7 separate regions of the Homo sapiens genome follow, and regions 2, 3, 4, 5, 6 and 7 are each linked to region 1. The links come from fine-mapping of genetic effects on gene expression. A gene starts in region 1. Each other region holds a variant in brackets. All regions are shown on one strand. Distances are between the middles of the regions.

Evidence for each region. PIP is the estimated chance that this variant, and not a neighbour inherited with it, causes the effect.
Region 2: its variant is fine-mapped to the expression of KCTD10 in whole blood (INTERVAL, PIP above 0.99).
Region 3: its variant is fine-mapped to the expression of KCTD10 in whole blood (TOPMed, PIP above 0.99). The same link has a PIP of 0.9 or more in blood mononuclear cells.
Region 4: its variant is fine-mapped to the expression of KCTD10 in NK cells (Gilchrist 2021, PIP 0.95).
Region 5: its variant is fine-mapped to the expression of KCTD10 in lung (TOPMed, PIP above 0.99).
Region 6: its variant is fine-mapped to the expression of KCTD10 in whole blood (INTERVAL, PIP 0.94).
Region 7: its variant is fine-mapped to the expression of KCTD10 in subcutaneous fat (TwinsUK, PIP 0.95).

What each region holds. Positions count from the first base shown.
Region 1 is chr12:109,475,595-109,479,662 of GRCh38, reverse strand. It overlaps KCTD10 (potassium channel tetramerization domain containing 10), which reads left to right and starts at 2,363. Exons shown (of 7, transcript NM_031954.5): 1 at 2,363-2,403. The coding sequence starts at 2,401. It overlaps UBE3B (ubiquitin protein ligase E3B), which reads right to left and starts at 2,029. Exons shown (of 28, transcript NM_130466.4): 1 at 1,554-2,029. RefSeq lists enhancers at 2,117-2,206, 2,715-3,450.
Region 2 is chr12:109,587,022-109,591,066 of GRCh38, reverse strand. MVK (mevalonate kinase) reads right to left here. Exons shown (of 11, transcript NM_000431.4): 8 at 206-296. Among named protein-coding and RNA genes, the nearest start is that of MVK, 15 kb to the right of the region's middle. The variant G/A (reference allele first, on the strand shown) is at 2,050.
Region 3 is chr12:109,448,984-109,453,051 of GRCh38, reverse strand. It overlaps KCTD10 (potassium channel tetramerization domain containing 10), which reads left to right. Exons shown (of 7, transcript NM_031954.5): 7 at 1,239-4,068. The coding sequence ends at 1,457. Among named protein-coding and RNA genes, the nearest start is that of KCTD10, 26 kb to the left of the region's middle. The variant G/A (reference allele first, on the strand shown) is at 1,744.
Region 4 is chr12:109,610,435-109,614,502 of GRCh38, reverse strand. No RefSeq gene overlaps it. Among named protein-coding and RNA genes, the nearest start is that of MVK, 39 kb to the right of the region's middle. RefSeq lists an enhancer at 2,778-3,278. The variant T/A (reference allele first, on the strand shown) is at 2,307.
Region 5 is chr12:109,563,147-109,567,214 of GRCh38, reverse strand. MMAB (metabolism of cobalamin associated B) reads left to right here. Exons shown (of 9, transcript NM_052845.4): 4 at 2,039-2,096. Among named protein-coding and RNA genes, the nearest start is that of MMAB, 8.3 kb to the left of the region's middle. RefSeq lists an enhancer at 3,382-3,882. The variant G/A (reference allele first, on the strand shown) is at 2,243.
Region 6 is chr12:109,454,930-109,458,997 of GRCh38, reverse strand. It overlaps KCTD10 (potassium channel tetramerization domain containing 10), which reads left to right. Exons shown (of 7, transcript NM_031954.5): 4 at 920-1,006; 5 at 1,316-1,368; 6 at 2,685-2,880. Among named protein-coding and RNA genes, the nearest start is that of KCTD10, 20 kb to the left of the region's middle. RefSeq lists an enhancer at 1-472. The variant T/C (reference allele first, on the strand shown) is at 2,001.
Region 7 is chr12:109,518,763-109,522,830 of GRCh38, reverse strand. It overlaps UBE3B (ubiquitin protein ligase E3B), which reads right to left. Exons shown (of 28, transcript NM_130466.4): 20 at 1,507-1,683; 21 at 1,280-1,390. Among named protein-coding and RNA genes, the nearest start is that of UBE3B, 43 kb to the right of the region's middle. The variant AT/T (reference allele first, on the strand shown) is at 2,087.

The DNA.
Region 1 (4,068 bases):
CTCCACCTGCACAGTGTATACTATAGTTCGTCAATTAATAAAACACACAATCAAGTGTTTATTAAGTACTTATTTTGCTAAATGCCATGGAGAACCAAAGAAAAGGCTGTGCGCAGCAGAAAAAGTCTTGCATCAGAGAAAGCGGGCCTTGGTTCTTTTTAGTACTCCTTCTATCCGACATTTGGCCAAGTTACTTATCCTCTCTAGGCCTCAGTTTCCTTATGTGTAAATCGAGGGTAATAATAGTGTCTATGTCCTAGGGTTGCTGAAAGGATTAAATGCAACATTTATCCTTCTTGTACCTCAATTTAGTCATCACAACATTGTGATTAGGATTAAATGGGAAAATATTAATATAGGATATCTAAAAGCATGTAGCATGTAAGTGAGCTTTATTGTATTGTCCTTAAGAAGCTTGCAATCTAGTTAGGGAAACAAGAATCATATAGGTAGAAAGATTAGAAAATAAGAGGTTGGTGATAACCAAGATCATTTAAAAAAGTAAATGAGTGCCCATTATGTGTCAAGTCCTTTATAAGTGATCTCATCTAATAAGGAGAGGAGTCCTATGAGAAGATCATTCATGATCTCATCTACTCCAGTCTAGACCATTAGTATGTGGCAGAGTCAAGGCTGTAATAACTAAGAGGCAGGATTCAGACTCTTGTCTTACCTCTATATTTCCAAAGCTGAAGCATCATAAATACCAACTGCTGACTAAGCCAAGAGGATTGTCCCTGTGCAGTAGGAAAAGCTGGGCCACCAGGTTTAATGACCACCACCACTTGTTCTGGGCAGACGGTGTATCAGACACTGCACAGATTATTTAACCAACTTGTCTTTTCAACAGCTCTATCAGTTCTCGATAATCTTTGTTTTTTTGAGACGGAGTCTCACTTTGTTGCCCAGGCTGGAGTGCAGCGGCGCGAACTCTGCTCACTGCAACCTCCGCCTCCCAGGTTCAAGTGATTCTCCTGCTTCAGCCTCCCAAGTCGCTGGGATTAAAGGCGCCCGCCACCACGCCCGGCTAATTTTTGTATTTTTAGTAGAGATGCGGTTTCACCATGTTGGCCACGCTGGTCTTGAACTTCTGACCTCAGGTGATCCGCCCGCCTCGGCCTCCCAAAGTGCTAGGATTACAGGCGTGAGCCACCGTGGCCAGCCTCAATAATCTAATTTTTATTTAAAGAATAGGAAACACGACTTAAAGAGACTATTCATATTAACAGCTACTATTTATTGAAAGCTACAGCCTATCTAAGGTGGATGCTTTTGAATCTGAATCCATGTATATCCAAAACAGTTATTTATCACTAAGTAAAACAAACAAGATCCAGGGCTCCCCCGTTCACAGAATGGCCAAGCAAAGAGAAGTTGAGAGTGCAAGATTGCCTGTGGGGGCTAAGCTGGAGTTAAATTACGATCAAGTTTTTCTTTATTCAGAACTAGGTGTCAGGCACGGTACTAAAACGTATTCACACCCTCTGTGAAACCTGCTAATTACTCCATTTACACAGAAGGAAACTGAGGCTCAGAGAGGTGAGGGAACTCACCCAAGGTCACACAGCGAGCGAACAGTATTCGAACTCCAGTTTAGGTGAGTCCTGGGGCCCAGAGTCTTTCCTCGGCATCAACAACCACAGGAACAAATCACCCAGCATTAGTCCGTTTATAAAGGCCTACCGTCCCCAAAGTGAAAAGAGGTGGAAAGGGCCGCGGAAAGAGCCCCTGGAGCACACACGCCAGATCCCAGCACTTGTTCCTCCGACCTGGCCAGGCAGGGACTGTGCCCTAGAGCCAACTCCCTCAAAGTCCCCAGCCCCACCACTCGGAGGACTGACGACCCAGTTCTCCCGCAGGCCGGACCGCAGGCCCTACCGGCCTACCCGCAGGCCGACCTTTATTCGCCGGAGGTCCCCGCACTTGGGGTCGGGGCCGCAGCTGCCACTGTCTCAGCCCAAAACACCCGAGTTCTGCCAGACCCGGGGCAGCAGCCGACGCACTACCGCCATCTTGCCCCGCGGTGTTCGCTTTCAGAACCCCGCCAGGAAGCAAGCATCCAGTTCCGGAAAATGACAGTTCCGCAGAGCTTCTTCGCCCGGGAAGGAAAACTTCCCCACACCTTGCCTCCCCTCTGGCAGCTGAAATAGCGGAGGTGGGATAAATGCCCTCCCCAGCCGAGAAAAGCTGGAACCCACTCCGGCCGGGGAGGCTGGAAAGAAAACTGGCCCCTAGGCGCACAACGGACGGCTTAAGACGTTGCCCTCTGCGGGGCGGAAGTGGGGTGCGGACAGCGGAAGTTATCGCTCCGGCCCCGCCTCCGCCCCCGGCTGGCGTGAGCTGGGTGTTTCCTGCCTCTCTCAGTCCGGGTTTGGAGACTCCTGCGTCCTCCGACTTTTCATGGTAGGGAGGGCGGTGCCCATGGACTAGGGGTTGAGGGCGGCCGAGGGAGCTGGGCAGCAGCAGAGTATAAGAAGGGACCGAGAGGAGGGGGTGTGATGAGGGGCAGTCACGATAGTGGAGAGGCATTTGGGGGATTGGTTAGGGGAAAGGCCCGGGGTGGGGGAAGGGCTTTGGGTGGAGAATTAGGGGCGGGGGTGGTGGTAGGGAGGCTCCCTGGCGGTTAGGAATCCGGGAAGCACATTTGGGCTTGCGGAGTAGATACGTGTGTGCGTGAGGAAGGGGTGTCTCCAAGTGAGTCCTGAGTGCTGGTTGGAGATGGGAGTTGGTGATTGCGAGGAGAACAAAGAGATATCAATTGAAAACGGACATTTGGGGGTGGAAAATGAGGATTTGGAGGATTATGAAGGAGAATGAATGGGCAGGTTATGAGAAGGTGAGGTAGGATTCCTTGGGGCGGAGCGTTTGGCGTTTTGGAGGTTGTGGCTGGAGTCGCTGAGTTTCCAGGAAGTGGGGAAGGGGCTCCCAGGTGCGTCTGAACACACGGCCCAGTGAGGGAAAGAAATCGAGAGAGCCCAGCAGGCTGATGTGCGTTCAGTGCTTGGAATCCTGGGGAGAGATGCCAGGGGCCTGAGGTTAGGATACCTGCGCCACGGAGTTCAGTGCCTCAGCTGGCGCCTGGGTACCTATCTGTAACTTCCATTGAGGCCAGAGGTGACCACGCCTAAGGAGCGGAGGATGTTTCAAGATCTGTCTCTCAGCTGTGGGGTTTGTCTGCTTGGGATCCTCAAGGGTCTGTTCCCTGAGTAGCTCATTGTCCCTGGGTAGAGATGACCAAAGATTGGCCCAGATCTTCTTTCTACTTGCTTGCTTGTTTGTCACGTCCCTGGAAAGTGCAGTCTTAAGGGAAAATCAGTCCCAGTGACGCTGCTGAAGAAAAGTCAGTTATCCTGTAGCTGACGTTGACTAGTCCGCTCCATTTTGTGCAAAATAAGGACCAGCGGATGGGAAGAAGGCAGCATAAACCAGTGGTTCTCAAACTCTGGTCCCACCAGCAGCAACACCTGGTAACTTATTCAAAATGGCTGAAATTTCAAGCCCTGTCAGAGACTACTGAATCAGACATTCTTGGGGTGGAGCCCATCTATCGGTTTTAACAAGCCCTGCAAGGGATTAGACTAATGATTTCTTGATTTGGACTGTGTAATGAAAGGGGCAAAGGAGTTGGGAGTCAGAGGGCTCTTATAGGTGTGATTCCTAGTTTTCTCCCCAAAAAAGTGGGGTTGATGATAAACATCTTTCTCACTAGAACATTGAGAGAAATAGACCAAGAGTTTGTGTATTAAACACAGGGAGAGAATGTCATTTGATGGAAGTTGCAATTGGCGGTAGCTGTCTTATAAGCAAATTTTGGATGTAAAATGCTGCAATTATGTGACTTAGTTTAGTTGAAATGTAACAGCAGACTTTTCTGAGTTGTAGAAATGCCCTCAGTTTGGGAAGGTTTTATACAAGCCTCAATACAGTGTTTCTTAAACTTCTTTGCTGTAGGAATCCCCTGAGGTGATGCTTTGCCTCACATCCCTGGCAACTCTTAGATAAAGCTGGTTAAATACCTTAGCTAGGTGGCAGTAAGCCCTGGTCCCACATCCGAATCCCCCAAAGAGC
Region 2 (4,045 bases), 110 kb before region 1:
GTCTAACGAGCCCGACCACTGTCATTTTCCTGGCCAGGCTACGGGCACGGACGGTACCTTCTTTTCTGCCAAAACCACCTCCCTAAGGGCCCCCACCACCCACCACACCCCCTATAACCCATCAGCCAGAGGGAGACCTCGAAAATCCAGATGTAATTGTGTCCTGGCCTTCCTGAAACCTGCCCAAGAAGGGAACAAGAGTCACCTTGAGCAGCCTGTTTCTGACGCCAGCCACAAGGGCCCTGGTATTGCGAGGGACTTTGGTGTTGGTCAGCAGGATCTGGAGAGCTGGCGACCTGCAGGGTGAAGAGGAGGCAGGTCCACACTGAACTCAAGATGGAGGAGCTGGGACAGGACTGGGAGCAGTCCGGGAAGCCGCCCACCCTGATACGGAGGAAGAAGGGAGGCACAAGAGGTGACACTGGATTGGGGGAGCATGGGGCTTCTGCTGCTGGCCACAGCTGCGCCTCCATCCCAGGCACTGGTTGGGTGGCCATTCTCCCTTGGCTTTTCACTCATTTATTCATTCAACTTCAACTGGGACCTACAACATGCTAGGCACAGCGTGGCCTTGGGGCCGGGGCCAGAGAGGGGATAGGGGAGAAGGGCCGAGAAGGTTTTTCTGGCATGACGTGGACACTGAGAACTGAGGAAGGGTAAGAAGCCACCAAGCAAAGCTAGAAGGGTGAGGATTTCTGGCAGTTGGAGCAGCCTGTGTGAGCCTGGAGGTGGCGGAACCCGGCACAGTCATCCAGTGAGAAATTCAAAGTGGCTATAGCAGAGTACAAGGAGGGGGCGAAGGTTCACTTGTGTGGGTCACCCCCACGAAGCTGGAGTTTTAGAAAGACCAAGCAACAGGCCCTGAAATGGATCACACAGAGGGAAGATGCCCAGGCTAGCTGGTGCGGGCAGTGCCACGCACGGGCTCGTAAATGCAGGGAGGGCAGGGTTGCAGAGGAGGATGGTCCCCAGCACGCTGAGCCCATTCTTGCCCTACCTCAATGGTGCCCGGACGAGCAGCCCTGGTCTAAAACCAGATGTAGAGTCAGTCATCCCCTTGGCTGCCCTCTGGCACATAGACGTGTCCCAGGCAGCCACGTTGAGCTGACTCTCTAGCATGACCCCGTGGTCCTCACCTGCCCCAGAGGAGCTGCATAAATCCCTCCTAAAGCCACAATCCCAACTGTCCTTGTAGTGAGCCGTCTTCGAGGGCTCAAGCTGACATTTCTTGCCATCCAACCTGCCTTTCAGAGGGCTGCAGGCTGGGATGGAAGGTGGGGGATTTGGATGAGCTCTGGCCCGAGACAGCTGGAGACGGGCAGAGCCCTTGATACCTTTATTCGCTGTCTTCACAGTTCAAGATTGTAAAATCCAATAGGGCTGGAAAGGGCTGCCAGAAACCTGCTTTATCTCACTGCCCATAAGCCCATGAAATTAATATCGATTCTCAGCCTTGGAGGCTGGCTTTTTTTTTTTTTTAACTTTACAAAAGATGAACATTCTATTTGGCTTTTCTCTTCCCTTCTAAGACAAGCCATTCCTCAAAAGGGCAGCGTTCTGGGAGGCCGCATCTTGATCCACTTCACAAACAATGCATTTTTTCTTTACAGAGAGGCACCACGCATGGTTGGTGGGGGGAAGCTCCTTAAGCCATCCATGGGATTAACGTGGAGTCTGGCCCCCAGCTTCTCTGTGAAGCCGCCATCTGCTCCCGTGGCACCCCACAGCAGGCAGCAAAGGTTGGTTTGCTCCATGCTCCCATCTAGCCAGGCGGGAGGAGTTTGGGTGTTGCATCTTCATCTTTCTTAGACAAGTCCTCTGCAGACAGGCCTGTCACCAGCCCCACCAGATCCAGGGCTCATACCCATCCAGCGGCCACCACGCAGGGGGTAAGCCTGGTAAGCGCTCCTGTGATCCGGGCTTGGCCACTGCCCCAGCCTCTTCTTCTCTCCTCGCTCCCCAGGCTGCTCACTCCACTCAGCCACTCTGACCTCCCAGCTACTGTGTCACACGGCAGGCAGCGTGCTCGTCTCAGGACCTTTGCACCGC[G/A]CTTCCTCTGCCAGGGACCAGCCCCGCCCCATAGCGGCGTGACTTATTCAGGTTTCTGCTCAATGTTCCTTCACCAGCAGCCCCCGAACCCCCATCCAATCGGACCCCTCCTTCTCTTTGTAGCCTCTGACCCTGCCTTGTTTCCTAAAGGTGCTTAAGACTGCCTGATATGCTCTCACAGACAACTGATTTTTTCTCCTCTCCCAACAAAGTATGAGTTCCACGGAGGCGGGGCTTTGTTTTGTTCCCTGCGGAGGCCCCAGTACTCAGCACGCAGTAGGTGCTTAATGATACTTGTGGAAAGGATGAATGAACTCGGCCAGCAAACAGGTAAGCACTTCAGAGCCACCGCTTCTGATTGTATGTTCAAGATCCCCCTAAGTAAACAAGGAGCTGGAGGTCTGGGAGAAGTGACTCACCTGAGGGCACCAGCTGGCAAGTGGGAGAGCTGGACTCAAACCTAGGCCTGTGGACCCAGCGCCTCCGCCCAGCACACCAGCAACGCCTGGCCATTCCCCTGGCCGTTCCCCTGCCCGCCCCCCTTGGAAACCTCCTCATTCATCTCCTGATGCCCCCAGTAGACCGTACACTCGGTGCCCAGCCCACGTCTTCATCAGTTTTCTAGCTCCAGGGCCTAGTCCAGTGCTTAGGCCACAAGTGGCTCTCAGGAGACACTGAAGGAATGAAATGCCACCACTTCCATGAATGATTCCCCAGGCTCGCAGCCAGATCTAAGACGCCTGTCACTGTCACCCACAGCAGCTTCACAACCCTTCAGGTGTCTTCTCTCTGACGATTCCAGTGACCGCCTTCCCCATCAGACCGTGGGCTCCTGAAGACAGGCCGGGGCCCGGGCATTTGAGACTCCCCCACATGATCCAGCTCTGGTTCCACATGGATCCGGGGCGGTGGCAGACCAGCTTCACCTCGGCACCCGAGGCTCTCCTGACGACTGCTGGAGCAACCCGAGGAAGCTGTTCCACGCTCCTACTGGCTTCTGCGGAGTGCAAAGGTCGGCGGCAAGGGTGATTCTGCCTCCCAAGGGACACTAAGCAATGTCTGGAGATGTTTTTGATTGCCACGCTGAGGGTGCTACTGGCATCTAGTGGGTAGGGGCTGGGGATGGCTACAATGCACAGGGCAGCCCCACCACAAAGAATAACCCAGCCCCAAATCTCAATAGTGCCAATGCTGACAACTCTGACGTACAGCCTTGGAAAGGGAGGCATGACTGAGCTGGGACAGAAAGATCCCAGAGAACTAGCCGGGGGCCCAGGTGTGGCGCTGTGGCAGGCCAGGTTACTGAGCCACTAATGGAGTGGCCCAGCTGGTGGGGGCTGCAGGCCAGGACCTGCCACTCATCCATGAAGACCGCCCTGAGTAAAGAGGAGAGAGCCCCAGGACCCTTACTGATGCGAAAAGGCCCATGGAGGTGGCAAAGTGCCCTGGGACAAACACCACCCCACAACTTGATCAAGGGCTTAGGGAACAGTCAAAAAGGCACCTGGCTCCCCTCTGCCATGCGTTTCATTCCAGGCACCCAACAATTCTGCCGTGGGTGCAAACAGAACAGAGGATGCTGAAATCGCAAACAGAACAGAGAATGCTGAAATCGCACATGCACGTTTGTGATTCCAATGATTCCAGCGGGAGGGACACAGAAACATAAAACAGGCTGAGAGTCTCCAAATGTCACTTCTGCTCCAAGCCCCTCCCAAGCCTCCCTCCCGCTTCCATCCTGCCTCTGCCCTGTGTGCCTCCATCATGGTGACTCTCACATTGTCCTGTGGCGGCTTTTGTGTGTGTCTGGCCCCACCCCCACAAGCAGACTGAGAGTCCTTGGAAACTGTACCCAAGCTTCATCTCTCCATTCCTACGCCCCAGTGCAGCATCATCGGGAACACAGGAAGTAATGGATTCTTGTTTACTAAGCAAATACAGGAATGAATGAATGAGCAGCTGAGAGTCTACGGGCACAGCCATGCATGACTTTCCC
Region 3 (4,068 bases), 27 kb after region 1:
CCTTGGACTCCCGTCCTGGCTCTGCCCCTAACCAGCTTCACAAACACAAGAACACGCCACTCCTGAACCTGGTCTGTGAATCAAGAAACAGTTGGGATCAGACCATGTGGTCTCTAAATCCCCTTGCTCCTTATTAAGCTCTAAAAATGAGAAGTCTTAAAATTTTAAAGCTTAATTAGCCAGATCCCATATCTTTTAAAAAAAAAGGAAAGAAAACCAGGATTTCCTCCCAGCCTCTCTGCCTGTTAGACTCTGTTGGCCTCCCTGGCCACTAGAGACCTTCTGGAGGTCTTCTGTCCTGGTGCCATTTCAGGGTTTCAGGCTGCATCAGTGCTGGCAGCAGCAAACAGTAAACTCACTGTTGGGCATTACTCCAAATTCTGTTGTTTCCCCCATCTGCCTGCCATGATTTACTTCTGAGTCCACAGTTAGCTGCTGTGTGCATCCCATTCTGGCTTTGTAGTGTCAGTGAGGAAGACGGGGTAGAGTGTGCCTGCTCCATTTTTCCCAGAACCTCCGAATTCCACCCTGAAAGTGGAGTCTAGTCTGATCAAATGTGTGGGACCTGCTTATGTGGCCCTCTTCCTGTTCATCACACCTTAACCCTGAAGGGCAATGAGCAAACACAATGATTTGCCAAACAGCAGAAGGGCTCATGCCCATTTCGTGGGAGTCCCCAGCTGGACCCTGTACAAAAAACTGCTTTAGAGACTGCTTTAAGGTGTGGAAGGACTTCTGTGCAAGGTTGCAGCTCTGTTAGGAGAAGCATATTAGCACTGACCTAAATGGCCATCCAAGTATGGTTAATTGCATTGTCGTATTTATAATTCCTTGATACAGAATGATCTCTAGGTTAAGTTAGGCACAAGAGGAAGACATGTACAACTCTGTGTGGTGGGCCACCTTGTGTGTTTTTTGAAGTGTGTGAATAAATATGTGTATTACACATATTTACATGCACAGAATCTTTGAGAGGGTAAAATGATGAGAAACTGTACCTTTAAGAAGGGAAACTAGGGGCAGGGAGACCTGTTTCTCTGCATCCCCTTGATTTTCTGTGCATTTAGCACCACATGTAAGTGTTGCCATTGAAAATATCAGTTTATTTAAAAATAATACTGGTGGCCTTCAGCAGAATCCCAGGGGCCTGATTTAGCCTGGCGGCCCTGCTTAAAGTCCAGGTGTTGGCAGAGGGGGTGGGCCATAACTTACCTGCCCTGTATACTGTGGGAACACAGGTGGAGTTTCCCGAAGCCCGGATTTATGAGGAGACCCTGAACATTTTGCTGTATGAGGCCCAGGATGGCCGGGGACCTGACAATGCGCTCCTGGAGGCCACAGGCGGGGCGGCGGGGCGCTCCCACCACCTGGACGAGGACGAGGAGCGGGAGCGGATCGAGCGCGTGCGGAGGATCCACATCAAGCGCCCTGATGACCGGGCCCACCTCCACCAGTGAGCAGGCAAGAGACCGAGCCGCCCTCCTCTCACCGCCCCCACTCCCTGCCGTGCTACACCCAGATCCTGTGCAGGCTGCCGGGCCCCTTCTGCTTCCCTTGGAGCCTGGAGATACTTTTGTAACAAGCCAGATGATTATTTTGGTATTGCTTGACAAGGCAAATTGATTGTCTTGACCCAGGCGTATGACCCCTGTCGTTGAACAAGCTGTGTCTAAGATCTCTACTTTTCATGAGAATCTGAGACTCTTTGGAGCCAGGCTTTCTCGGTTCTCAGAGGAAAAGTAT[G/A]AATGAGTGTGAAGTGTATGTGAGAACTTTTGTTTGCAATATTTATTTTTGTGGGTGTCGACTTCCTATGTGGGCTTTTTGGGTGACACTCCCTTAAGGGTTCAGTTTGACAATTCTGAGAGTTGTCCTGCAGTTGGAGGCCACCAGAGGTATCTGAGCTCCCTGCTTCCTATTTCATAATCCTCCAGCCCCAGCAGGTCCACTCCTGGTTCCTGTGTGTTTGGCCCGGGCACAATCCCCACTGCTTTGCTAGACGTGCTTTCTGCCATGTGGCTTTGGGCCTAGAGCTTGTTGATAATTGCAGCTTGTGGCAGTGGAAATATGGCTGAATGAGCGTCTAAATCGTTGAGACCAGTGCAACTTTGGGTGCAAGGCTTTGTTTAGGGATCAAGCCTTTTGCCACCTTGGGCTGGTCTTTGGCCTGGTGCTCACTGGGACCCCATATGTCTGCGTAGGAGCAGAACTTTCCATGGCAGTAAGTGTCCAGCTCTGTTTCTGGTTCTTTCCCCAACTCCAGCCCCGTCCAGTTGTTCTCCTGATTGACCCGACTCCACTCCAGGAAGGCCATCTGACCCTGTGACAGGCATAGCTCATAAACTACCCCTCCCTGGGATCCCGCTCCTCTTCAGCCTCCTTCCCCATGAAGCTGGGCTAACTTTCTAAGTCATTTTGCTTAGAAATTCAGTGTGGCCCATACCCTTTGTCCTCCCAGCCTGGCATCCAGGCAGGGACACCCTCACACCACCAGCCCCAGGGAGCTTCCCTGCTATAAACACAGACCCCCTTGTCTTTGCCTCTGATTTTTACACAGTGTAGAGTGGCCAGCAGTGAACAGGTTGAGGATGTGCGGGTAGATAGATAACTTTGGGTCTGGTTTGTGTCTGTGTTCATGTTTGTTTAAGGGATATGTGTGACTGTGGGTGGGGACGTGTGCTTGTGGGGCACAGGTGGCGGCCCCTGCTGGAGCCCGGCTGGGCGCAGCGCCTATGTAGGACGGGTGTTCTCAGTGACCTACCTCCCAGGCTCCTCTGCACCTGCAAAGGAACAGGAGTGAGTCGTGACTGACAGGGGTGGTTGAGACTAGACTAGGTAGAGTAGTTACCAGGAGATGTGAATGTGCGTCAGGTGATGGATGGGTTTGTCAAGGGAATCGTTACCGTTTTATACCAAAGGTATTAACATGGGCAGCCTTTGACACATGTATTCCAAAAACGAGTTTATATTTTCAAACGGTTTTTACAGCTTAGACTTTGTACTTACTGCCCTGCCTGTGACAGTTGTATGCCTTCATTTTGTATCCAACAGCAAAGTCTACAATAAAACTTTAAAACAATCATGACTGAATGTCAAAATCGTGTATTGGGCAGATGCTTTTTAAACTGTCGTGTGAGAAACTTTTATATTAGGCCATTTGGATTTTATTAAGTGCTAAGGAAAGAGGGCTTACAAAATGTTTCGTAAATATTTTATACTGTTTAAGTGTTAAACACCAACCCTGTCTTTCTTTTGGGTTGAGCTTTTTTAGAAAGTCGAAGTGAATGTTGGCCAGGAAAATGGAAAAGCCATTGTATAAATTTTTTTTTGAGGCGGAGTCTTGCTCTATTGGCCAGGCTGGAGTGTAGTGGCACCATCTCCACTTACCACAACTTGTGCCTCCTGGGTTCAAGCGATTCTGCTGCCTCAGCCTCCCGAGTAGCTGGGATTGCAGGTACCCATCAGCCCATGCCCAGCTAATTTTGTATTTTTAGTAGAGATGGGGTTTCACCATGTTGGCCAGGCTGGTCTTGAACTCCTGACCCTGTGATCCGACCACCTTGGCCTCCCAAAGTGCTGGGATTACAGGTGTGAGTCACCACACCTGGCTGCATAGTGTTTTAAATGTTTGTGTGAAGAATGAGTTTGTGGAACAATTTGATTTGCTGTGGCCTCTATGCCTAATGAGCTAGTGTTTCTGGCAGCTCTCTCTACCCAACTTTGCACTTGTAGTTTTGAGTCTTTGTCTCTCTGGAATATGAACAGGTTTATAAAACATTCCATGGTGAACAATTCTGTCGGCTGCATTATAGCCATGAGTGAATAGACAGCATTGGCTGGTCCAAGCTCTGTTATTGAGTATACAAGGAACTGATTTTTCTTATGTTAGCACTAAGGGCAAAAACCAATATTTATAATGTAAGCACTATCCAGGTAAAACACTGGCCCAAGATTTGGTAAAGAGATTTCATTGCAATGTAATAACTACAGTTTTTTACAAATTGGAACAGCTTTGGTGTGTCGTAATCAAGGGTTTTTTTTGTTTGTTTGTTTCAAATAAGCCATCTGATT
Region 4 (4,068 bases), 130 kb before region 1:
CTTCCTCAAAGAGCCCGAGGGAATTCTCCGGCTGGGTAAACTCAGGGTCCCCAGGAGCCTCTCCAGCCCCCACAGTCATTAATCATAACTGAACTCTCCTGGATGAAGTTTCCCATCCCTTTGGGGTTTCTGTCTCCCAGTATCACTTAATATATACCCTCATCGGGCCATATATACCTGCTCCTAATAAACCTCTATGACTTTAATGAACTAAATAGCAAATTACTTTTTTATTCAAGAATGAAATTTCATCATATTCATAATTCATATTTTATTTCAGACATCTGCTGCTGATTACATTACATTTAACTAAAATTAGATGATGCTCAGAATGCAATTAAGACTCTGCCAAATTCTTCGGCCCACCAATGCCGGCGGAGCGCAGCGGGGGCCGCGAGGAACCTAATATGTAATTAGGAGCTATTTTCTAGCTGTTTTTAAAGTCTGAAAATTAGCTGCCTTTATTAATCACACAGACAAATATAAAGTGGAACCAACGCTCGCTGAAATTTCTAAAAGGGATTTTTTGTTTAATTATACACCGCAGAGCGCTGAGACTCGTTCTGCATGTTGATTTGTTGTGCACTGACATTTTGACAACTGGTTCTCAATTTGTCTGTCGTAGTTAGGCAACAACAAAGCCGACGGTAATACTTTAACTTTCAAAACCTTCAGTGTGCCGGGGAGAGGGAGAATGGCATTCCTCACTGCGGGCCCGCAGCTTGGGCTCTCGAAGGCAGAGACACGGGGAGAAGGGCAGGTGAGGGGCGGAGGGGACTCCCGGGACGACGCCAGCTGGGGAGGTGGCTGACATTCTGGATCGGGAGTTACAGGGCCAAGGAACAAGCCCCTGTTCTGCGGGGTGGCTAAGTGGAAACCCTCCCTAATCTCTGGGCCTCAGTTTCCTCCTCTGCACCAAGAATGGGCTGGAGTCTGAGATCTTCAAGGAGCCTGTAGATGCCAAAACTCTGTCTTCTTTTCTCTGTGTGCTAATGTCTTCTGTGTAGCATCATTTGTCCCCTCGGCCTTAGCAGGGGGATGTGATTTTTTTTAGAGACTGTCTCACTCTGTAACCCAGGCTGGAGTGCAGTGGTGTGATCATAGCTCACTGCAGCCTCAAACACCCGGGCTCAAGCAAGCCTCCCTGCTGAGTAGCACCGGGGCTACAGGTTCGAACTCCCCCGCTCAAGCCAACCTCCCTGCTGAGTAGCTGGGTTACAGGTGAGAGCCACAGCACCCAGTCTCCAGAGGAATCCTTTATTATCCCAATGTGCAGAGGATGCAACTGAGACTCTGAGACTCAGCAACTTGTTAACCAACCAGCAGGTGGCCACACCAGAACTCAAACATGGAGTTCACTGACTCCACAATCTGTGGTTCTAACCACTGTATCCACCTCCCTGGCTCAGGAGCCCTGAGCAAGGGACAGCTCTCTGGGCCTCAGATTCCCTTCTGTGATGCTTGGATGTGGTAGAGTGGCACCCAGCCCTGCTGGGGGCCAGGGACAGAGTACACCAGCAGGATCACAGCATGAAGCAGGATTGAGCCCCACACAGGGACCCCCAGTCTCAGTGGAACTCCTGAGCTCACCCCATTCCCTTGGAGGTTCCTTAGGCCACCCTGTGGGTGAAACTACCCAGTGATGTCCAGAAAGTCCCAGGACAGAGAGTGACTGCCAAGGGGCCCAGATTCTACCCCATGCCCAGACAACAATAACAGATGGCTTTTTGTCCCATGTGCCTAGTACTCTGTTGACACTTTATTACCAGCGGGCACAATGGCTCACACCTGTAATCCTGGCACTTCAGGAGGCCAAGGTGGGAGGACCACTTGAGCCCAGAAGTCCGAGGCCAGCCTGAGCAACAGAGAGATCCCGCCTCTAGGAAAAATTAAAACTTAGCTGAGTGTGGTGGTGTACACCTGTAGTCCCAGCTGCTTGGGAGGCTGAGGTAGGAGAATCAATTGAGCCTGGGAGGTAGAGGCTGCAGTGAGCCGTGATCGCACCACTGAACTCCGGCCTGGGCAACAGAGTGAGACCCTGTCTCAAAAAAAAAAAAAAATAATATCACCTACACTCCTTCCACTAACCCTCCAAAGTGGATTCACAACCAGGCTTGGAGTCTCACAGCCTGGATTCAAACCCAACCCCTGCAATTTGCCTGCTGTGGTAACCTTGGTCGGGCTGCCTCAGTTTCCATATCAAGAAAATGAAGAGCTTGAGCACACCCACCTCTCTCGGTTCTGGGGAGGACTGAACAGGATAATTGGGTGTGTGGCCCAGATCAAGCCCTCAGCTGATGGAAGGT[T/A]CCTGTTACCACCCCATTTGACAGACAGGCACATTGAGGCTCTGCAGGGAGAAGTGCTTGCTCTGAGGTGCCTGCCGCCAGGTGGGTCTGATGCCACAGCCCATGCTCCTACCCCACCACCATAATGCCCCCCTAATTCCCACCAGGGAGGACTGGGGAAGGGCCTGAGGACCCACTGTGCAGTCTGGGCTGCCCCATCTGGCCATTGTGACCATCTCCAGGGGCTCTCAGGGTGTTTTTACCTTCCGTCTCTCACTTCCTTTTTGCTCCCTGGAGAGAGTGCCCAGCAGCTTTCTGCAGGAGCCAAGGCATGGCAGAGCCCACCACGGGGTCTTTTGCCCCTGCTGACTCCAGCCCAGTGGAGCCAGCACCATGACCTGCCCAGGCCTGTTTTTAGGAGCCAGCCCTGCCTCCTCCTCCTGCCCACAGACCCATCTGATGAAAACGCCAACGGAGAAAAGGAGGTTGTTTTGGGTGACAATGAAACTGCCAATAAAATCTCAAACGCAGAGATAGGCAATGACTATTTCACTTATTCTGACAGTTTGAGACTTTGCTGGGGAAGGGAAGTGACAGGCACCTGCCGACATCAACACCACTTCTTTCGGAGAACAGCCCGTGGGAGGGGGCTTCCCGGGAGACCTGCCTTGCCCAGATGCCAAGCGGGCTGTGGCTGCTGCTGTTGGCAGCAGGGGCTGCGGTCACCCACGGGGAGAGACTGGACACTCTGACTCTATCCACAACTCCCCTCTGGCACAGACATATGCCAGGCTCTGGCTGGAGACCACAGAGGCAGAAACAACCAGCAAAACCCCTGCCCTTAGGGTTTGTTTTGTTTTTTTAAGACAAGGTCTGGCTCTGTCATTCAGGCTGGAGTGCAGTGGTGCAATCTCGGCTCGCTGTAACCTCTACCTCCTGGGCTCAAGCCATCCTCCCACCTCAGCCTCTCGAATAGCTGGGACTACAAGCATTCATCACGACACCCAGCTAATTTTTGTATTTTATTGTAGAGATGGGGTTTCGACATGTTGCTCAGGCTGGTCTCGAACTCTTGAGCTCAAGCCATCCTGCCATCCTCCCATCTTGGCCTCCCAAGTAGCTGGAACTATAAGCGCTTACCACAGTGCCTGGCTAATTTTTGTATTTTTTGTATAGATGGGGTTTCACCCTATTGCCTAGGCTGGTCTCAAACTCATGAGCTCAAGCAATCCTCCCACCTCAGCCTCCCAAAGTGCTAGGATTACCCACATGAGCCACCATGCCCAGCCCCTTAGGGGTTATTGGGAGTGGAATCGTGTCCCCCACAAAGAGATTTTGAAGTCCTAACCCCGGATCCCCATGAATGTGACTTTATTTGAAAATGAGGTCTTTGCAGATGTAATCAAGTTAAGATGAGGTCATGAGGGTGGGCTGCTGTCCTTATAAGAGGGAATGCCATGTGAAGCCAGACACACAGGGAGAAGGCCATGTGTCAGCAACAGCCAAGGCTGGAGTGATGCAACCGCAAGCCCAGGACTGCCAGCCACCACCAGAAGCTAGGAAGAGGCAAGGGAGGGTTCTCAGAGGACCCAGTGTCTCAGAGGGTCCCTGGTCCTGTCGACACCTTCATTCTAGACTTCTGGCCTCCTGAACCATGACAGAGTAAATCTCTGTTGTTTTAAGCCACCACATTTATGGTACTTTGTTATGGGAGCCCTAATTAGAACACCGTTATAAAGGGCTTCCATGCCAACTAGGGCATCGGCAAAAGAGGCCCCACCTC
Region 5 (4,068 bases), 88 kb before region 1:
AAAATAATGTTAGCTATTATCACTCTTCTTTTTTTTTTTTTTCCGAGACGGAGTTTCGCGCTTGTTGCCCAGACTGGAGTGCAATGGTGTGATCTCGGCTCACTGCAACCTCTGCCTCCCGGGTTCAAGCGAGTCTCCTCATTATTACTATTCTTAACACTTACCTGTTCCTGGCTACCATTTCTCCATGGCGGGCCTGACTAGGTGAGATTTTCGGGACAGATAATGGGAGGTACAGATAGTCAGCCAGCCGGGTAGAGAAGGCAAACAAACCCCTTGGTGTGTGTGGGAGGGGGTCCAGAAGAGGGCAGACACAAGACCAAGTGGGCAAAGGGAGAAAAGGCCAGTTCTCGCATCAGCTATTCTAATGAGCTCTAAAACACGAGCCATCGTCTCTCAGTTGAGGAGGAGCGGGAGGTTGGAGAAACCTCAGTTGTGGATTCTTCCTTGGTCAGATATTGACCAAGCATCTGCAGTGCGAGGCGCTGCTCAACAGAGAACCTCAGCCCCGCCTTCCTGAGCTGCAGAGTGCAGGGAGCAGAACCTCAGCCCCACCTTCCTGAGCTGCAGAGTGCAGGGAGCAGGCAGCACTCACTGGGCAGCTACGAGGGTGGGAGCAGGCTTGGGGCAAGTGCCCAGGGTGGGGCCTGCCACTGGCCTGGTCACGGGGCATCCCTCGGCAAGCAGGTACTTCTGCACACCTCCTGTGAGGCAGGCATGGGGCATCCGCTATGATGGAGACAGACTGTGTCCCAGCCTGCACAGCCCTCCCTTTGGTCCAGAGGGGAAGACACACCAGACGGGAATCACATACTGGTGTGTTTAGTTCTAACTGTAAGATGTGCCAGGAAGATGGGCTGGATATTCTCCATTGGCCCTTTCAAATCCCTTCTCTTCACCTTCTCTTTATGCATGGGAGGCTGACCTTATCACCTGGTGGCTGTGCCACCTCGATTCGTTGGTCTTCTGGCATTCAGGTGGGTCCAGCCAGTGGGAGGCACCAGTAGGTGATAGGAGAGTGAGTGCAGAGAGCTCATGAGTGTGTGTGACCCTGTTCCCCAGTGGTGCATGGCTCTGGTGGCAGCTGGGCTCCCTACCTAACTCCCTCCCTGCTGAGTGACTCCAGAATTCAGCTCCCTCCAGGGTGAGTTGTACCTTCCCCGACCCTTGCCCTTCAGGCTCCTGCATTTCCCTGAAACTCTGCCCATACCTCTGTGAATTGTCCCTTCCCAAAGCCCTCCTCCAGGAATCCCTGCAGCGCGCCACTGTCTCCTGCTGGGGCACTGACTGGTGCAGGAGGGAAGTGCAGGGTTCTGAGGGAGGCAGAGCCAGGGTCCTGACCTGTGTCGGGGGGCAGTTTGCTTTCTCTGCCTTATGAGGGAAGTCCTCCCCAGCCTTCAAAGTCTCCCCTCCAGCATCACCTCCTCCAGGAAGCCCTCCCTGCCTCTCTAGCCAAGGTCAGATTAGGCTTCTATTGCTCTTTCCTTCAGAGCACTGATCTCAGTTTGCACCTTCACATTCAGGAGTATGTCTAATCTGATTACCTATCACACTCCTGAATATCACGCTCCTGAACATGAAGGTGTAAGCTTTGCCTGAAGTCCCAGAGACACTCAGCAGCGGTGCAGAATTTGCACCTGGGTCTGTCTGGTTCCCACTCACCTATCACCACAGGGCTGCGGGTCAGAGCTCAGGATCCAGCACTTGAGACTGTCACTGCTCACCCTGTCACCAACTTGCTGGAGAGAGCCTGGGTCAGCTTCTGTTCACCACTGACTCTCCTGGGCCTGGCCAGAGTAGCTGTTCAAAAGGAATTCTTGACTGGAAATAATGAGCATCCGAAAAGGCATTTCAAGAAACAAATACCACCGCCCCCAAATGGAAGGCTATAATGTTCTTATTGTTAGCAAGAAAAATAACATGGCTATTATAGCTAAATTAACTAAATGGCCTGCCACCTGAGAATCTATTGTTTATGGCAAGACAGGGCCTAGGGACATTACATTACAGGCAAATTCTTTTTCCTTTTTCTTCATAGGTTTGCTCTGGAATTAGTCACAGAAAAGGGCCATACATTTGCCGAAGAGCTTCAGAAAGTGAGTAACACCATCTCACCCAAGCTGGGAATCTTCAGCCCCGGTGGCCATCACGGGACTCAGCATCCAGCCACCAGTTACTCTTTGTGTCACCTGGGGCTAGTTACTCTCCCTCTGTGAGCTCCATTTCTTCATCTGTAAAATGC[G/A]GACAGGCCAGGTATGGTGGCTCACACCTGCAATCTCAGCTACTTGGGAGACTGAGGCAGGAAGATCACTTGAGGCCAGGAGCCTAGGTAACATAATAAGACCCTGACTCTACAAAATATTTGAAAATTAGCCAGGCATAGTGGTGAATGCCTGTAGCCTTAGCTACTCAGGAAACTGAGGTAGGAGGATCTCTTGAGCCCAGGAGGTCAAGGCTGCAGTGAGCTGTGATCATGCCACTGCACTCCTGCCTGGGCAAGAGATTGAGACCCTGTCTCAGGCCGAGCACCATGGTTCAATTAAGCCTGTAATCCCAGCACTTTGGGCGGCCAAGGTGGGAGCATCACTTCAAGCCAGGAGTTCAAGACCAGCCTGGGCAACTTAGGGAGACCCTGTCTCTACAAAAAAAAAAAAAAATTAAAAATTAGCCAAGTATGGTGGCATGCACCCATAGTCCCAGCAACTTACAAGGCTGAGGTGGGAGAATCGCTTGAGTCTTACAGGTTGAGGCTGCAGTGAGATGTGATTACACCACTGCACTGTAGCCTGGGCAACAGAGTGGGATCCTGTCTTTAAAAAAAAAAAAAAAAAAAAACCTCTGTCTCCAAAACAAACAACTGGAGACATATAATCTTCCTTCACAGGCGAGTGGGGAGGATTGTACTAAATGAGGGAATTTAAAATGCAACGGTTCTCAACCCAGGGCCATTCTGCCCCTCAGGGCCCGCTGAGCAATATCTGGAGACATTTTTGGTTGCCACATCTGGGTGTTGGGGGTGTTGCTGGCATGTAAATATCCTGCAATGCAGGGGACAGCCCCCGTCAACGAAGAATGACCCGGCCTTGAATGGCAATAGCACCGAGGCTGAGAAAGCCGGTGTGAAGTGCCTCGCTCATGCCCGATGCAGAGGGAACCTGGGAAGCCTAGCTGCAGTGAGCCCTCAGCCCGTGGGACTCATGCGTCACAGTGTCACTGTTCTGTTCCCTAAGAAGGAGGGGGCCTCTGACCCACGCAGAGAACTTCAAGCACGGAGACAGGGTCACCACCCCAGAATGCCCAGGGTGCCGCACTTTCCACCTCCACATGGACCCAGGTCCCCAGAAACCGCTCCCCGCAGGGTCAGCCCTTCCCACTTCCGTTCTGAAGCCCAGGCTGGAGCCTGCTCAGGCCCCTGGGAACAGACGGAGGGTAGTAGGTGGGGCTGCCACAGGCTGTGGCTGCAGGAGGAAGCCTCAGCTGCCAGAACATTCTGTGTGGTGGAGGAAGGCTTTCAACCTCCTGAGGAGCCGCGGTAGCAGCGGTCATTTCTGTCTGCTGTACGCGTTGGGTCGCAGCTGTCACGTCACCTCCTCAAGGGCCTTCCCTGGCCACCTAATCTCCAGCTGGGTTAGGCACTGCTCCTGGATTTCCACATCCTCTAACCACAGGCATCACAAGGGGTGTTAACCTGTTCACCCATCCACCTCCCACCCAGCCTTGGCACTGTGAGGGCGGGGACAGTGTCTGGTTCACCTGGGAGCCCCGCCTGGCCTGGTAGCCGCTCGCAGGGCCTGTGGATGAGGCCGGGCAGCAATGCCACTGCTTTCCTCATATCACCCATTTCACCCTCACAGACACCCGTGAGGTGGAAGTTAATGTCCACAGCTTATAGGGAGCCAAACTGAGCCTCAGAAAGGCTGACTTGCCCAGCCCCCACAGCCAGGCATCAGTAGAGCTGGAATCTGATTCCCAAACTGGTGCCATTTCTCCCCAGCCCTTGGGGTACACGCTGCACGTGGCCAACCAAGTGGGTAGTATTATCACTCCCGCTTTGACTGTGAAAGTGCA
Region 6 (4,068 bases), 21 kb after region 1:
CACATGTAATCTGATGATGCTTGGCTGTCTGTTGAAGGAATGAGAGACTCTGAAAGCTGTTTGTGCATGGAAGGTCCTTGTTGTCCACTGGGCTGCATTGTGGGTGATAAGGCAGACTTTTTCAGCGGGACCCCCAACTGTCAGAATCTGTAAGCCATTTTGGGGGAAGCAGGTGGTGTTCCTGAAGAGGAATCCTCTACTCTCCTCCTGCCTGACGGGTCTAGGCCTGGCCGGCTGCCTTTGGGGATCTGGAAGGGGAAGGAGCTGGGGTTGCTCATCACTTAGTGTGATGTTCACTTGTCCCCCCGTTTTCAGAATCGCAGCTCAGCCCTGTCCTCTACCGTGCAAACCACTGCAGGAAGATGGCCCTTTCTTCTGCCTGCATGGGGACGGAGATGGATTTGGGGATCTTTCCAGTGCTTCCGCCCACTGGTTTCAGCTTTCCCCCTCTCCTTGGTTAACGCTCACCTGTGACCTTTCTACCCTCAAATTTTTGACTTTTTTTACTGGTCTGCTGACCTCACTTCTCCCATTCTTTTTCCCCTTATGGGTTTATGCTTTTTTTTTTAATTCCTCTGCAGTCATGGTAGTGGGGTTTTAGGAGCTTTTGATTAAAACACGTTTCTGCTGCCACGTCAAGGGTTTATTTTTGAGTGGCTTCCTGGGCTGTGGAAAATGTGTCATCATTGTTAGTACTTACTCAGCATCCTGGCCTATCATGGTCATAGCCAAAGAGCAGACTTACTGGGAAATTCAACTCCCTGTCTTCCCCCATCTAGTTCACTGGTGGTGAGAATCCTTCTCTCTTCCCAGCCATGACTGCCCCATCTCCCCTCGCCAGAGCCTGTCCAGCCGGTCAACTTTAAAAATGCAGTGCTAGGCAGGCCTCCTAGGCTGAAAGCATGTTTTGTTCCAGCAGAACAAAGATACTTATGAGCCTTTCTGCAAGGTCCCTGTGATCACCTCATCCAAGGAAGAACAAAAACTTATAGCGACTTCAAATAAGGTATGTTGGAGGCACCCTTGTGGAATTTCTTTTGCTACCAGAAATGATGGAGGTTCTTCTGAATAACTTTTGAAATAAAAACATGTATAATTGCCTGAGTGAGGCCTGATAATGGGTTCACAGTGGGAAGCTACAGGTCATCTTTTGTGCCCCTGCTATTGGGTCATGTGGTCCCCCTCTCCAGCCAGCAAGCTATGCTTGTCTGCCTCTTCTGATGCAGGGCAGGGCCCCAGCCCTATGGGAAGCTAGTAGTTCATTGCATCTGCCTGCCAAGTAACTCTCTTCTTCTTCTTTTAAAACAACCCACAGCCAGCCGTGAAGTTGCTCTACAACAGAAGTAACAACAAATACTCATATACCAGGTAAGGCGTCAGCCGGGAAAGACAGCTCCATTTACTAGGAAAACCTCCACTCACACCAGCCAGGCCCAGCTCTTCTTCGTACCTTCAGATGAGGATGACCCCTCTGTACCTCTCTGCCTGGATAGATAAGTAGACAGATGGATACAGGGGTATAACTCTGAGCTATAATTCACACATATCATAAAAGTCATCTTTCTAGAGTGTACAGTTATTATTATATTCACAATATGTGGTTTTTATATATTCACAAGTTGTGAGGCCATAACGACTATCTAATTTTAGAACTTTTTCACTGCCTGAAAAGAAACCCTCTATTCGTTAGCAGTCACTCCCCATTTTCCCTCAACCATTGCTTCCCCAACCCCACAGCCCTAGGTAACCACTAATCTGTTTTCTGTCTTGATGAATTTGCCTGTTCTGGACATTTTTATGTGAATGGAATTGCATAATATATGGCCTTTTGTGACCAGATTCCTTCATTCAGCATAATGAGATTACCTAAGAGGTTTTCAAGGTTTATCCATGTTGTAGCATGAATCAATACTTCATTCCTTTTTATGGCAGAATAATATTCCACAGTGTAGACCACATTTTCTTTACCCATTCATCAGTTGATGGACATTTGGGTTGTT[T/C]GCACTTTTTGGCTATTGTGTGTAATGCTGTTATGAACATTCATGCAAAGTCTCTATGTGGACTTACGTTTTCATTTCTCTGGGAACAGAATTGCTGGGTCATGTGGTAATTCTATGTTTAATCATTCGAGGACCTGCCAAACTGTTTTCTAAAGTGGCTGCACCATTTTACATTCCCACCAGCAATATATGCAGGTTTCTAGAATGCCATTTGGCCCTTGAAAACATGTGGCTCTAACTCAGGAACTTGAGGGATGCAGGGAGGATTTAATCAGGTTACTCAAGATCTTTAAAAAGACCTAGGATATAGAGTCTCCCTTGGGCAGTGCCATTCTGCTCCTCTTGGGGCTCGGTGAGGTGCTCTCCTCCACCTGGTGCCTGTGCCCAGAGGCTGTCACTCAAGCACAATGGTTAGGAGCACTCAGGCTTAGGGGCCAGGGCTGTCTTTTGGGGGGCGTGTCTGCCATTTATTAGGTTCAGCCTTGAGCAATTACCTAATTTCTCTGATCCTCACTTTCCTTCTTGAGTGATGGAGATTGGAGTGCCTTTGTCATGGGATTATTGTGAGGTTGAAATGAGGTAGTGGAGAAAGTGGGCTCAGTAGGGCCCTGCGTGTAGAAGGGCCCAGCAAATGATGGCAGTTTTTACCAGCTTGTGGTCACCGTATCAAATGCTCTTTTGCAGCAATTCTGACGACAATATGTTGAAAAACATTGAACTGTTTGATAAGCTGTCTCTGCGCTTTAACGGAAGGGTCCTGTTCATAAAGGATGTTATTGGGGATGAAATCTGCTGCTGGTCCTTTTATGGTCAGGGCCGGAAGATTGCTGAAGTCTGTTGTACCTCCATCGTCTATGCCACTGAGAAGAAACAGACCAAGGTAAGAGCCTCGAGAGGACAGTTTGGAGTGGCTGTTCTGAAACACACACCTATAGAACTTCCTTTCACTTGAGCCCAATACAGAGGGAAATGCTTTTAAAATGCTTTGCTTGCCTTGTGATTGCTCATCCTTAAAATATTTATCTTTTAGGCCCTGCAAGGAGCCAAATGTAGGGTTCATCTGGCATTCCTTTAGCTCCCTACCTTGCTGGCTTCCTTCCAAGCATGCTTGACTCCCTGACTGGGCTGGACTCTGGGGATGTGTTTTTATATCATCCTCTCCAAACCAGTAGGCTTGACCTATCCTTTGACTTCTCCCACCATGCCGTTCCACAAAGCTGGATTGCTCTGCATAGTGCTGCTAGAGATCTGGCCCCCCCTTAATTGAATTTGCCTGCCCTTTTGGGGCTCTGCAATTGGGTTTTCTGTCTTTTTAAACTTTTAATTCACATTATACACTCTGTCATTTCTTTAACGTGTCTAAGGGAATTCTGGCTATCCAGTGACATGCAGCAGGTCTGCTGTGGGCCGACGGTCATGCCTCTTGTCACCCTTGCACAGGAGTCTTAAGAGCCTGAGCCTGTAGGTCACTTACCCAGGTTACTATTGTCCCTGCAGCTTTTGGGGCCACAGTTCTGCATGATTCTGTAGCTGACCTCGAACAAAAAGCAAATGAGAAGAAATCATCACATCACAAAGTAGAAACCAGAGTCTTTTTTTTTTTTAACTTATTATTGAAAATTGAAGCCATACACAGAATTATAGTGTGGTGATTTCCCCTGTGCCATCACGCCACGTCAAGGGCCATCAGCTTGGGCACTCTCACTCAGTCTGTATCTACTCCTCCTCCCCAGCACTCACAGGATGAATTTGACAACATATTTTATTCCTAAGCATTCAAAATCTATCCTAAAAGAATAGATATTGTTCTTAAGGTAGCCAAGAAGTGCTAAACACTGAGGTTCTTTTTGCTTTCAAAGATCCCGGGGGCAGGGGGTGAACCAGAATCATCTGCCTCTCTCTCCACATTGGCAAGACATCATGCCCCTTTTCTCCTGTGAACTGTTTTTTTTTTTTCAGGGCTGTGAATTCTTCCTGTAATTAGACCCCCATTCTGTCATGGTTTGATTTTTTAAAAATATACCTGGGCTGCCTCTGCCCTTGGGTAGTAAGAGGAGAGTCACCATAT
Region 7 (4,068 bases), 43 kb before region 1:
CAGAGGCACAGAGAATGGGCCCAGGACCCAAATCACTGGAGGGCACAAGGAAGACTGGATGGTGTTTGGGCAGGGGCTCAGATGGGCCACCTGATTCCATCATGGCCAGGGACTGAGGCCGGTGCACATAGACTGTTTCCAGACAGAGAGAACAATGGATTATTCGAGAGTGAAAGGAGTTTGGCCCTGAGACCTCCCTCTCAGCTTGGCCCAGCTGCTGGCTCTTTCTGTTTGGAAAGCATCTGGCTTCTCCAGGTTCCTGGGGTATGCGAGGAGTGCTGCCCAGGTGGCTCGCTTCCTCCGTGCTTGGGCCAGAAGCTCAGCAGAGCCTGAGACCCAGGCAGGGTCCCTGCAGCTCTGGAGCCCACTGCGAAGGCCACACAGACTGGCTGGGCTTGTGCTGCAGCTTTCCTTCCTCCTGGGAAACAGGACTCTCCCAAGGAACAGGCGGTGACTTCCCACTGAAGGTGGTCCCACCTTGGCTTTCAATGGACGGGGTTTCAATGGACAGGAGCTGTGTGGGCCACATCACCCTGACCCCATCAGGCCACAGAGTGGAAACCCAGACTCACTTCCTCTTAGTAAGGTGAGGATGACTGCTCCGATCCACCTGGTGTGAGCAGCTGGCTGGGCACCGTAGAAGGCCCTCCTCACTTACCATTAACGGCAACCCAGGAATGTGGCTTTTCTTATCTCCACTTTACTGATGCGAGAACACGGCTTAAAAACTAAAGAAACTTGAAGGCACATGGTCACACGGCTGACTAGGAACAGCTGGTCCTGTCCTGTTGCCATGGCTGGGAAGCACTCACTCAAACAACACAAGATTTTAAAACTATCAAACTCCACAAAATGCTGCCCTCCTACAACGGGGACCCAGCCTCCGTGTGGCCATCTGGCTCTGCACACCACTCCTCATGCCTCAGGAAAGAAGAGGGCTGGCCTTAGGACTTGGGCCGGCCTGGGTTCAAATTCCACCTCTACCACTTAACTAGCAACGAAACTCTGGACAGGTGACTCCTCAAAGCTTCAGGTCTCCCATCCTTAAATAGCCAGGACAGTGGCAGCCCCGTCACAGGGCTGTCGATGGGATGAGATGAGATGCCACAGGCAAAGTACCTAGCACTGGTGTACAACAAACCTTGGTTCCTGCCCCTGTCCTCGCTTGTATCCTAGTGACAGTTTACATGGCCAAGCCTGATCACATATGTGTATGTGAAGAAGCCCATGGTACCGTTAACATTTTATTTTACATTTCTCTGTTTCTTAACGTTCCTACCTCATACACAGCCTTCCCCAGCATCTTCCCCACAAACTCGAAGAGCTGCAGGTAATTCTCATGGATGTAGGATGTGGGTGAGGGGTACAGCCTCTCATCCCCACTGGTTGTCTGCAAGGCAAAAAGACGGGGAGAGGCAGAGGTCAAGTGCCTTGCAAGGAGCAAGCCCAGCTCTTCACTTCTTGAATCTGGCTGCTGTCAGCCCTGCTGTTGCTCCCCTTAAATACCTTGAACAGATTGAGTGCTGGGTCAAAAACTCTCTTGATGATCTCTTCCAAGAACTCCTTAAAAACACCGTCTTGATCAATCCCTGCTTCGTCCACCCCGAGGTCATTGACAAACTTCACACGGATGACCCCCTTCATGGCGTGCTGGGAGAGCTGCCTAAGCTGCTCGTAGCCGTCCTGCCAAGAGCAGAATTACAGCCCATTAGGAAGCCCAAAGCCTTATGCACACAATTCGGGGTTCCCTCTCCTCTGTGCGAAGCTCTCCCAGCATCATTACCAAATGTGCAAATTATGAAACGTGGATGCATGACAGGAGCCGTTCTCACCTGCTTTTGAATGAGTGCTGATTAAAAGCAAAGATTCATTTGGGGATGTGACAGTATCACTCCTTGGCAAGGGGAGACTGACCTCAAGGGGACAGAGCAGTGAGATGGGGAAGTTAGACAAAATGAGTCATGACAAGCTCCTGGCCATCAGACAAAGGATGAAAGAAACCGGGACAAGATACATTTCTCTCTCTCTCAATGCTAAGAGTATCTTTAGCTCATGGTAAAAAAAAGAAAAAAGAAAAAAAAAAAAA[AT/T]CAAACCTACAGAACACTGTAAAATGAAAAGAATTACCCATCACCCCTCATCTCCCGCTGCCTTCCCAATCATGAAGTGCCTGCAAGTCATGCTGAGGAATTTAGGGGACATCCTGAAGGTAATGGGAGCTGCAGAAGGTTTTAGGCAAAGAGTAACAGGGCTGACTTTCTGTCAGATCTTTCTATTGGCAGCAGAGCAGGTGGATGGCAGGGATCAACGCAGGGAGCAGAGACCGAGATGTGGGGGTGGTGCTGGGCCTGGACTTCTGGCTGGTGGTCAGCTCTGTTAGGACACAGCCATTCAGCACATCTACTCCATCCAGACCTCAACATGCACAGCCCCAGAACCACAACTTTGGAGTTCTCCTACTAAATCATCTGTTTAGTTTGTCTCTTGATTCTAATCTGTTGAGGCCTTCCTGGCTTCTGGTTCCATCATCTAATGCATTCCTAGTACTTGGGGTGCTGAGGTTTTTATTTCAGAGCAGTGACTATAAAAACAGTGCTGAACAGCACAGGGCCCAGGGAAGAGTCTGTTGGCCCGACTTGAGAGGCCCAATCACCAGGTGAAACTGATGTCTTCAGACACTGTGATGGAACAAGTGACCAATCAACCCTGCTGTCCTATGAAGGCCATGCCACATTTCTCCCTTTCAGCTACAACTGTAACACTGTCACATGCTTCGCAGGTTAGACAGGCTGTCTCCACAGCATCCACTCGGCTGCCGTCTGGTCCCCTCATCACAAAGCAAACGAGCAGTATGCCAGTGTGGCGAGACCTGTTTTGGGGAACCCTTGCTGCCTTCCTGCCATGTTCACCCAGTGATCCCCAAAGGACTATCCTATGGTGCCCCGATTCAGGGGTTAGGCTTCAAAGTTAGTGGGCAAGGGAAAATTACCTCTCAAGACCCCTAAGTCACATGTGGGAACAGGAGCACAGTTTTGTGGAGGCAAACCTGAGAAGGACTTTTTATGTACATAAAGTTTGAGAATCATTAAGTTAGATGACAAAAGGGAGAAACAGGAAGTCAACAGGCAGCTGTAACAGCATTTAAACCATTCTGCCTAAATTTAAGATAATTATCTTGGCACTGAGATGAGAACGGATGGAGAATTCCATCAAGTTCCTGTCTGCCTGCAGGAGTTCCTCCAACCTGCTTTAAAATTATGCCTCCCCAGCCTTCACACGCATTAGTAGATGCGTTTGTGGTTATGTGGATGAAATGGGATGGTACATGTGAAAGCAAGTGGCACATGGCCTAGCTCAAGGAGCGTTTACTGGATTCAAATCTCAGTCTTGCTTGATCAGCTCCACACCAGCCTCTTTGTTTAAACGTTTAGAGGGGACTGCCTCTTGTGATACATTTCCTGCCTTCTGGGAACTGGCGTGGATATGCGAGGATTATATCCATGCCTCTTGGGAGGTGAATGTGAGTCAGCGTTCCTCTTCTTCACTGCATCTCAACATGCACACACAGGGAATACTGAGCTAGAAAAGGGATGCCTGGCTTCCAGGCCCAGCTCTATCACTGATATCCAAGTGACCTTGACTGAAGTTCTCTGGCCTCAGTTCTGCCTTTGACAGAGACAGGGGAAAGGACTGGGTAAGAGTATGTTTGAGGATCCTTCCGGTTCTGAATACTAGAGTTCCAGCCCAAACTCACCCTCTGGGAAGAAGAGCCTTCCTACAGGACTTTAATATCTGGAAGCCTAATAGAGAAGCATAGCCCTCAATACTAACCATAAAAAAGGAAACAATGCCCAGGAGAGCATGAGTCTGAGATCAGCTTACTGACGCCCCCTTGTGTCCAAATCCAGCAAAGGCCCCTGGGCTCTCATATTCTAATAACCAAGCCACCAGATTACGACAACTGGGATAACAATGAACAACCCTCTCCCCTTCTCCAGTGGAAAGTAAAGAGGAAAAGGGACTTTGCCTAAAGCCTAAGACAGACATCTCTTTTGCCATCCCTGAGGGATA